3 linked regions of the Homo sapiens genome follow. The protein of the gene in region 2 interacts with the protein of the main gene of each other region in a pairwise test. Each region holds a gene or a part of one and is shown on either strand. Other genes may lie near its edges.

The links.
Region 1: the proteins of ZNF79 (region 2) and YJU2B interact in binary tests that used the Homo sapiens proteins (3 or more experiments, as listed by UniProt).
Region 3: the proteins of ZNF79 (region 2) and KRTAP6-3 interact in a two-hybrid assay, tested with the Homo sapiens proteins (one large-scale study listed by BioGRID).

Annotation. Positions count from the first base shown.
Region 1 is NC_000019.10:13,750,697-13,754,427, reverse strand, and holds part of YJU2B (probable splicing factor YJU2B), read right to left. Parts: intron 2,821-3,731; 5' UTR 2,620-2,820; coding exon 2,617-2,619; intron 140-2,616; coding exon 86-139; intron 1-85. UniProt on the Homo sapiens protein: May be involved in mRNA splicing.
Region 2 is NC_000009.12:127,422,949-127,427,181, reverse strand, and holds the start of ZNF79 (zinc finger protein 79), read right to left. Parts: upstream 2,801-4,233; 5' UTR 2,395-2,800; coding exon 2,379-2,394; exon of another isoform or gene 2,272-2,378; intron 1-2,271. UniProt on the Homo sapiens protein: May be involved in transcriptional regulation.
Region 3 is NC_000021.9:30,591,024-30,593,570, forward strand, and holds KRTAP6-3 (keratin-associated protein 6-3), read left to right. Parts: upstream 1-1,416; 5' UTR 1,417-1,443; coding exon 1,444-1,755; 3' UTR 1,756-2,032; downstream 2,033-2,547.

The sequences.
Region 1 (3,731 bases), on a different chromosome or scaffold from region 2:
CCTTCCGCAGCAGTGGCTCTAACCCCAAGAGGGGATGACGTGGGTCTTTTTGCTACTGTGGACCTGGAGCGGAGAGCCTGCTTACCTTCTCAGGGTTGAAGTCTGGAGGATAGTACTTGTTGACCCCTTTCCTTTCACCCTGCAAAGCAGAACAGAGACATGACTCAGAGAGAGGCTGATATGGTTTGGCTGTGTCCCTACCCAAATCTCATTCAAAAAAATTTTTTCTGATTTTTTATTTTACTATTAATTTTTAGAGATGGAGTCTTGCTCTGTCACCCATGCTGGAGTGCAGTGGTGCGATCTTGACTCACTGTAACCTCCGTTTCCCGAGTTCAGGCGATTCTCCTGCCTCAGCCTCCTGAGTAGCTAGGATTACAGGCATGCACCACCACGCCCAGCTAATTTTTTGTATTTTTAGTAGAGATGGGGTTTCACCATGTTGGCCAGGCTGGTCTTGAACTCCTGACATCAAGTGATGCACCCACCTCAGCCTCCCAAAGTGCTGGGATTACAGGCGAAATCTCATCTTGAATTGTAGTTCCCATAATCCCCACGTGTCATGGGAGGGACCTGGTGGGAGGTAACTGAATCGAATCATGGGGGCGAATCATGCTGTTCTCATGACAGCGAATGAGTTCTCGAGAGACCTCATGGTTTTACAAGGAGCTTTTCCTCTTGCTCATTCTTGCTGCTGCCACGTGAAGAAGGATGTGTTTGCTTCCCCTTCTGCCATGATTGTTAAGTTTCCTGAGGCCTCCCCAGCCATGCTGAACTGTGAGTCAATTAAACCTCTTTCCTTTATAAATTACCCAGGCTTGAGTATGTCTTTTTTTTTTTTTTTTTTTTTTTTGAGACAGAGTTTCACTCTTGTTGCCCAGGCTGGAGTGCAATGGTGCGATCTCATCTCACTGCAACCTCCGCCTCCCGGATTCAAGCAATTCTCCTGCCTCAGCCTCCCGAGTAGCTGGGATTACAGGCATGTGCCACTACGCCCAGCTAATTTTTTTGTATTTTTAGTACAGACAAAGTTTCACCATATTGGCCAGGCTGGTCTTGAACTCCTGACCTTGTGACCCACCTACCTCGACCTCCCAAAGTGCTGGGATTACAGGCGTGAGCCACCGCGCCCAGCCCTTGGGTATGTCTTTATGAGCAGCGTGAGACTGGACTAATACACAGGCTCCCTCCAGGAAACCTACTTGTGCAGCCTCAGGGGGCAGGACCTGGATAAGGGGGACTTGGGGACATTTTAGAGGACAGTGCTGGGCTCAGTGTCTGATTGGGGAAGGGCTACTTGGGCAAAAAACCCATTGTCATTGCTTTGGAAAATTCCATGAGGTTCAGATGCTCCTATGGTGGCTTTCACACTCTTTTGGAGACTGTGATTGACGGTAAGAAGTATTTAACATTGCCACTGGGCAGATACACATGTAGTACCGTTGAACACAGGTCTCAAGAAAGAACACTGAGCCTGGCTGAAGAGTCGCTCTTGTTTTCTTCTTTTTTTTTTTTGAGACAGAGTCTTGCTCTGTCACGCAGGCTTGGGTGCAGTGGTGCAATCTTGGCTCACTGCAACCTCTGCCTCCTGAGTTCAAGCAATCCTCGTGCCTTAGCCTCCTGAGTAGCAGGGACTACAGGAATGTGCTACCACATCCAACTAATTTTTGTATTTTTTTTTTTGAGATGGAGTTTCGCTTTCGTTGCCCAGGCTGGAGTGTGGTGGCATGTTCTCAGCCCACTGCAACCTCCACCTCCCGGGTTCAAGCGATTCTCCTGCCTCACCCTCCAGAGTGGCTGGGACTACAGGCTCCCGCCAACACGCCTGGCTAATTTTTGTATTTTTAGTAGAGACGGGGTTTCACCACGTTGGCCAGGGTAGTCTCAAACTCCTGACCTCAGGTGATCCACCCAGCTCAACCTCGCAAAGTGCTGGGATTACAGGCGTGAGCCACCGCGCCCAGCCTAATTTTTGTATTTTTAGTAGAGACAGGGTTTCGCCATGTTGGCCAGGCTGGTCTCAAACTCCTAATCTTAAATGATTTGCCTGCCTTGGCCTCCCAAACTGCTGGTATTACAGGCGTGAGCCACTGTGCCTGGCCTTGCAATGGTTAATTTTATGTTATATGAATTTCACCTTGTTAAAAAAAAATGAAAGAAAGAAAGAGAAAGGAAGGGGTAGGGGAGGGGGAGGGGAAAGGGGGAAGGGGAAATTTAGGTTGAGTGTAGTGGATCACTTGAGGTCAGGAGTTTCAGACCAGCCTGACCAACATGGCAAAACCCCGTCTCTACTAAAAATACAAAAATTAGTGGGACGTGCTTGCTTGAACCCAGAAGGCGGAGGTTGCAGTGAGCCGAGAGCGTGCCACTGCACTCCAGCCTAGGCAACAAAGTGAGACTGTCTCAAAAACAAAAGAAAATGAAACAAAAAAACATTTAAAAAGTGCCCATGGGTGATGTTAGCGCAAAGCCACATTTCAGACCCACTGCACCAAAAGATGATGACCCGGAGATTGAAATCATCATCTTAGAGCTCTGGGAGGGGAGGAGGGGCTGCTTCCAGGGTCCTACAAAGACTGGGAGAGAAACCCAGGGCACACGAGGCTGTCTACTCACCATCTTGGGAGCTGCCTACTGGTCCTCAGCCTCGGGGCGGACGATCAGAAACTGGCCTTGTGAACACACTGCACTGTCCTGACCTCTTGTGGAGCCTGGCAGAGGGTCCACAGGCTTCCCTGCGAAGATGTCGTGGGCCGTGTGGTGGTGCCAGCTCAGACAAGACTCCCGCCAGGCATAGGAGGCATCCAAAAAGCGGCGTGTCTGTTTAGAAAGAGAGAGTCCCGTCCACTCTACAGCCAATATACGCATCACATCTGACACTTTCATCCCTCTGTGGCCCCCACCGGGTCCAGCACCCATCATCACTCACGTGGGCCAGCACGGTCTTCTCTCTCCCGACTCTGCCCTTGACACTTGCTCACCCCACAGCTGCCCAGGGGATCTTTTTGTTTTTTGAGATGGAGTCTCGCTCTGTCACCAGGCTGGAGTGCAGTGGCGCGATCTCTGCTCACTGCAACCTCCACCTCCTGGGTTCAAGTGATTCTCCTGCCTCAGTCTCCCGAGTAGCTGGGACTACAAGCGTGCGCCACCACACCCAGCTAATTTTGTATTTTTAATAGAGACAGGGTTTCACCATGTTGCCCAGGATGGTCTTGATCTCTTTACCTCATGATCCACCCGCCCCAACCTCCCAAAGTGCTGGCATTACAGGTGTGAGCCACCATGCCCAGCTGGGATCTTTTAATATGAACAAACGTGTCACTCTCCTGCTTAAACCCCTCCCATGATTCATATGGTTTTTAGAATCAAGTCAAACCCCTTCCCACGGCCTGTGGGGCCCCTGCCTGCCTCTCCAAGCCTAACTCTTACCCCTCTATCTCTCGTTCACTCTGTTCCAGCCACACTGGCTTCCTGGCTGTCTTCAAAGGCCAAGTGCAGCTGGCCTGCACCTGCTGTTCCTCAGGTTTGCAAGCTCTTTGTTACAGGCTTTTTTTTTTTTTTTTTTTTTTTGAGACGGAGTCTCACTCTATCACCCAGGCTGGAGTGGGGTGGCATGATCTTGGCTCACTATCTCTGCCTCCTGGGTTTAAGTGATGTCATGCCTCAGTCTCCTGAGTAGCTGGGATTACAGGTACCCGCCACCAAGCCTGGCTAATTTTTTTGTATTTTTA
Region 2 (4,233 bases):
CCTCCCAAAGTGCTGGGATTACAGGTGTGAGCCACTGTGCCTGGCCCTACTAAATTCTTAAATGGGCAAAAGATTTGAACAGATATTTCTCCAAGCAAGAGATACAAATAGCCACTCCCTACATGAAACTGAACATCATTAGTCATTGGGGAAAAGCAAATGAAAACCACAATGAGAGAACACATCACACCTACTAACATGACTATAATAAACAAGATGGAGAATAACAAGTGTTGATGAGGATGTAAGGAAACTGGAAACCTCATACACTGCTGAGAATAGAAAATGATGCCGCCACAGTGGAAAAAGTTCAGCAGTTCCTGTGAAAGTCAAAGAGGGTTGTATGACGCAGTAATTCCACTTCTAAGTATATGCCCAAGAGAAATCAAACATACACACACACAAAAATTCACTGAAGAATGGATACACAAAATGTGATCTCTCCATACAATGGAATATCATTCTACCACAAAAAGGGATGAAGTACTGACGCATGCTATAACCTGGATGAACCCTGAAAATGATGTGCTAAGCGAGACACAAAAGGTCACATATTGGCAGGTGGATTGCCTGAGGTCAGGCGTTCAAGACCAGCCTGGCCAACACAGTGAAACCCTGTGTCTACTAAAAATACAAAAAATTAGCTGGGTGTGGTGGCGGGTGCCTGTAATCCCAACTACTCGGGAGGCTGAGGCAGGAGAATCACTTGAACGCGGGAGGCGGAGGTTGCGGTGAGCTGAGATCGCACCATCGCACTCCAGCCTGGGCAACAAGAGCAAAACTCCGTCTCAAAAAAAAAAAAAAAAAAAGTCACATATTATGAGTCCACTTATTTGAAATGTCCTAGGCAAATCCATAGTGACAGAAAGCAGATTAGTGGTTGCCAGTGACTTGTGGAGAAATGAGGGACTGGGGAGTCACTGCTACAGGCTATGGGGTTTCTTCTTCAGATAACAAAAATGTTCTGGAATTAAATAGTGATGGTTGCAAGACTTTGTGAAAATACTAAAAACCACTGAATTGTTCACTTTAAAAGGGTGAATATTATGGTATGTGAATGATATCTGAATAAAATAAATAAATAGATCTGGATCCTGATCTTAGGACAGACCTTCTGTTACTGAGAGTTATCTAACCTGACAGCACTTCCTTTCCTGTTTTGCAGTATGGGGAAGATGACGACCCATCTGCTCTGCTTTCCCAGGTGTCTGGGGAAGATAACACAAAATACTGGATGTGAAATTGCACTCTCTACTCTTCAAGTGCAAGACCAAATATAAGGATCTCTTGGCCAGGAGCAGTGGCTCACGCCTGTAATCCCAGCACTTTGGGATGCCGAAGCCAGTGGATCACTTGAGGTCAGGAGTTTGAGGCCAGCTTGGCCAACATGGTGAAACCCCGTCTCTACTAAAAATACAAAAATTAGCTGGACTTGGTGTCGGGCACCTGTAGTCCCAGCTACTCAGGAGGCTGAGGCAGGAGAATCGCTTGAACCTGGGAGGCGGAGGTTGCAGTGAGCTGAGATTGCGCCACTGCACTCCAGCCTCGGCGACAGAGCGAGACTCTGTCTCAAAAACAAAACAAAACAAACAAAAAAAAACAAATACAAGGACCTCTTGATCTTGGGGACAGCACCAAATTCTGGATGTAAAATTGCACTTGTAGAGTAAAAGACCAAATACAGTTGATCTAGGGGTGAACAGCAGAGGTGTTGGTGGTTAAGACTTAAAAGAGGTTGCCTGCTTACACATTTGTTCTGTACCACATTCAGGGTGCTTTCAAAAGTGTTATTTCATTTGAGAATTACAATTCTCAGAGGTAAACAAAGTAGTTAACATTATTTTGTCCTTTCTTCCATGGAGAAATACAGGTTAAGAGACCTGGCTGGTACCTCACAGCTTTCACAAGAACCTGTGCCTTCTAACTGCAAATTCCCCTGTCCTCCACAACTTCACAATCCTACTGGGCTGGCCTGCCCCCAAACTTTCCCGGGCTTCCAGGCATTCCTGGCTGCTTCGAGAAGGGCTAGAAGGAGAAAAGTGACAGAGGAGTCCCCAGGAACCCACTTCTCCCTACTCTCCACTGTCATTGGTCCATCTGGGCAGACTGGGGTACGTGGTACAATACTCAGAAATCACGCAGTCTGAGGTCCTCAAACTTTTTTGACCCCCGAATTCTTTACTCAAAAAAGGACTGTAGGGGCACATGTTCTCAGGATCTCCTGGGGCTGTGTCATGGGCAAAGAAAGAAAAAATGATTGTCTCCAACTACCTGTAGGAGAGATAAAGAGAGTTCTGATTCGGCTCACACAGCGGCAGTCGTGGGCAAACGAAGCAGCAGCCGATCTCTTGACAATCGCTCCCTCTACCACTCCTCACCTCCTTCCTCCAGCATTTGAGTCCCGCCTCGCGCCACAGCCTCCCAGCAGTTCTCTGGGCGTAAGGGTCTATCTACAGCAGCCCCCACCCCGTTCTGCAGGGCTGCTCTGACGGCTCCCAGGCCGGACTCTTCCTCTCCAGCCTCTCCCCGCAGAGGCACGGTCTGATCCTGCGGTGCTGGGTCGCGGGAGCTGTCCGGGCCTGCCCAGCCGGGTGTTCCACTCCGTCTCCCGAGTCACAGCCACTCTTTGGCTCGGCCTCAAGCAGAACCCGGTGAAAAAGCCGCTGCCAGCTTTCCGAAAAACGACTGGCAACTGGCAACTGGCAACAATCTACCGGCAACCGCGAGAGCTCAAGAACCGCTGTCCAAGTACCGCCCAACGCCAGGTCCTGGCTCCAGCGCCAGAGGGACGCGCCTGATTGGCGCCACTTCCGGTCATGCGCACATGCCCCGCGGCGGCCACACCGGACTCCATTTCCCAGAAGTCGCCGCGGGGCTCTGTTTCTGGCCAAAGTCTTTTTCATTCCTGCAGCCCGGTTTATGATACACACACGCTCAGGGATTGTACTTCCCAGAGAGGCTTCCGCCTGTGCTTGCTCCCGGAATCTATTATCCATCGTGCTTTTTTGTTGCACACGTCTTTAAAGTCCACCAGAATCCAACGAAATGGAGCCTCGAGGAAAAGAAGAGATTTAGCCGCGAAGGATTCTGGGAATGCTGGGCTTACAGGGGCGCCGATCTTCGCTGGCGCTAGGCGCTTGGTTTCCTCTCCGCAGCTCTCTGCGCACGGTACGCCTGTCCCTCGTTGGCCTTCCACTCAGGGCAATCACCAGCCACTCTCAGGGTCCTCTTGAGCCGTACTAAAAGTTTGGGAAGACTAAAGGAAATCAGAAGTCCCTCAGTCTGAACAGGACAGCCGTGAGTGGGTGGCCTGGGACCCTCAAAGTATAAAAACCTATCGGCCGGCGGGAACTGCTTCAGTCATTTCAGGGGCAGTGTTTGATCAGCACTTCTGCGGGAGGAGATTCCTGAATCCTGTGTTCCTTAAGGGCTTCCCTGCTGCAGGCTGGGGATGTTTCAATGGACTTTCCCTCGAGCCCTTTGGAAATTACTTCTTAAGCAATTTTTCGATGATCAGCTCCTTTTTATAGGCATTTTGTCGTTAAGGGGAGGGGACTGGGTTACCCAGGAAATAAGTGAGTATGGGGATTCTAAGGCTCCTTTTCATTTTGTCTTGTCTCTTTCCCTTTCAATCACAGCCGGTGGCATTTTTGCCAGTGTAAGTTTCTTAATTTTGTGGGTCTTCCTATGAATCTTAATGGGATTGGCTCCATCGGAGAAGCCACACTCACAAATGTCTTTGAGCTAGCCCTTCTCTATATTGGGCAGCTGTAGTTTGGGGCTTACAGTTTTGTAAGAAGTCTGAAGTGGGTCTCACTGGGCTAAAATCAAGGTGTCGACAGTGCTGCATTCCTTCTGGAGGTTCCAGGGGAGAATCTTTTCTTGCCTTTTCCAACTTCCAGAGGCTGCCTGCATCCTTGACTCGCAGCCCCTTCTTCCAACTTCAAAGTAGCAACCTCAGCCAGAGTCCGTCCATTGCTGCCCTCTGTATGGTTCTCTCTCCTCCGCAGCCCTCTTCCACTTTTAAGGACCCTCATGGTTAACACTGGGCTCACCCAGCTAATTGAGGAGAATCGTTAAGGCCAGCTGATTAGCAACCTTAATTCCATTTGCAATTTTATTCCCTTTTGTCATGTAACCTAACATATTCAGAGGTTCCGGGGATTAGGACATGTATATCTTTGGGGGGTGGTATTCTGCTGACCACAGCAGGATTAGAAAACCAGATGGAAG
Region 3 (2,547 bases), on a different chromosome or scaffold from region 2:
ATCTGAGAAAGCAATTAGAAACAATTACCCACCGTATCTCAAAATTCATGTTTTCCTCTCCTGACACATAATATTCACATATTTTACCTTCTTTTTATATTTAATGAATTTGCTTATTTTAAAATATATTAATTCCAAATTTCCAAAAGTATTGTAAAAATACTTTTCATCTTCTAGCAGAATTCCTGTTACTATTTTTTAAAGTGGTGACTTGGATAGAATAACATCAGCAAACCACATTTCTGGCCCAAATGCATTCTGGTGATAGCCTTAATTATGAGAGCTGACTTTCTATGAAGCTCCCTGTGATAATTTGTCACGTTTATTCCATCCACTTATTAAATATTATTAATGAATTATTAGTCATTTATTATGATAAAGCAATTAGAATAAAATATAAACAAATAATAGTACATATTAATTCATTTGCTACTCTTAAATGTAGCAGAACTACCAATGATCAACCTAGGGATCATACTTTGTAGATCAATGTGAGACTGGCAAAGTATCATATCAATAAGAGGCAAGTAGAACATTTAGTCAGAATTTCGGAACTGCACACAGTAGTTCATAAACTTTAGTGGATATATACCACCACCTTAACAATCGGAAAAGGCATGGATTCTCAAACCAGAAAAAAATCACCATGATAAATTCCTCCACTGGTTTGCATATGATCCAAAAGGATCCCAGAGTACATGAATTTATCCCCAGTTACCCCAAGCATAGAACAAAGATTGTGATTATTCTACACAGAATTTGAGTATAGAAAGTTGCATCATGTCATTCATTTGGTTATTTTTTCACTAATTCATCAAATCTTTATTAAGAATCTGCTGTATCAGGCACCGTTATAAGAAATGCAGATTGAGCAGATGAACAAAATAGACAAAGTCTCTACTTTCTGCAGGTTACAATGAGACAGAAGGGATAGAGAGACTGATTTTAAAAATGAATGAAATAGATTCTAACAGTGAAGAATCCTGTGAGAATAATAAAACTCAGTGAGTTACATTAAGTTCAGTTACTGGAGGTAGACTAATTAATATAAGGTGGCCATTAAAAGTCTCTCTGGGAAGTGAACATTTCAATTGAAATAGAAAATGAGTCAAATATTCCTGGTATTATTTTAAGAAAGAGAAATCAGTAAGTGCAGAGGCCAGGGCCTTATTGTGAGAAGAAACCTGCTGCATTTTAAAAGACAAAAAGCCAGCAGAGTTTGAGCATTATAGATAAATGGAGGAGAGTAGCAGGATATGAAATCAGAGAGATACGTAAGGGCCAGAACTTCTCAGCACAATGAAAGGCCTTTAGAGATATTTTTGCAGGGGCACGCTATGTTCTGATTCACTGAGGCATATAAAAGGCCCTCTGCGGAGAAGTGTCCATACTGAAGTCACCTACACTCCTTCCTACCCAAGGATGACCTCAACAACCAACACCATGTGTGGCAGCTACTACAGAAACTACAATGGTGGCCATGGCTATGGGTGCTGTGGCTACGGAGGCCTGGGCTGTGGTTATGGCGGCTGTGGCTATGGGTGCTGTGGCTACGGAGGCCTGGGCTTTGGCTATGGAGGCCTGGACTGTGGCTATGGAGGCCTGGGCTGTGGCTATGGCTCCTTCTGTGGCTGTGGCTACAGAGGCCTGGACTGTGGCTATGGCTGTGGCTATGGCTATGTCTCCCACTCCTTCTGTGGCTGTGGCTATAGGTGCGGCTCTGGCTATGGCTCCAGCTTTGGCTACTACTATTGAGGACACCATGGGAGACTCTCACCCTCTATCCTGTGACATTGCAATTCACCAATTCTGAAGCCCACATGCTCTGAGCCTTTCCCTTGATTGATGATATCCTGCAGTGGAAGTCTAATATGATCTGTTGTTGATCTACCATCTAACCCAAAAATACCCTGAGTTTCCATCATGAAGTGGGATAAGGTGAAGTTCACCTGTCACTTCTCCTTTTATCAGGATGATGGTGTCACAGTGACTCCTTTGATGACTTTCATGCTGTAGTTTGTTTCTCTGCTGACCTAATAAACACATTTAATCCACAAGAGAAATCTTGGTGTTTGTATCTTATTTATTGTCCAAAATTTTTTTCTTTGATTTTTTGCTTTTATCGTTATTTTTTTCAACTCTTATTTTAGGTTCAAGGGTTATATGTGTATATTTGTTACATGGGTGAATTGCATGCCACTGAGGTAATATGTGAAAGGTAGTTTTTCAACCCTTACCACCCCCCACCATCCCCACTCCAAGAGTCCCAGTGTCTATTGCTTTCATGTTTATATACATGTGCACTCAATTTTTAGCTCCTACTTATAAGTGAAAACCTGTGGTATTTGATTTTCTGTTCCTGCATTAATGTGCTTAGGATAATCACCTCCAGCTGCATCCATGGTGCTGCAAAGAATATGATTTCCACTCTTTGTTGTGGCTACATAGTATTCCATGGTGCACATGAAACACATTATCTTTTGTCAACTATTGTTAGACATCTGGGTTGATTCCATGTCTTTGCTCTTGTGAATAGCACAGCGATGA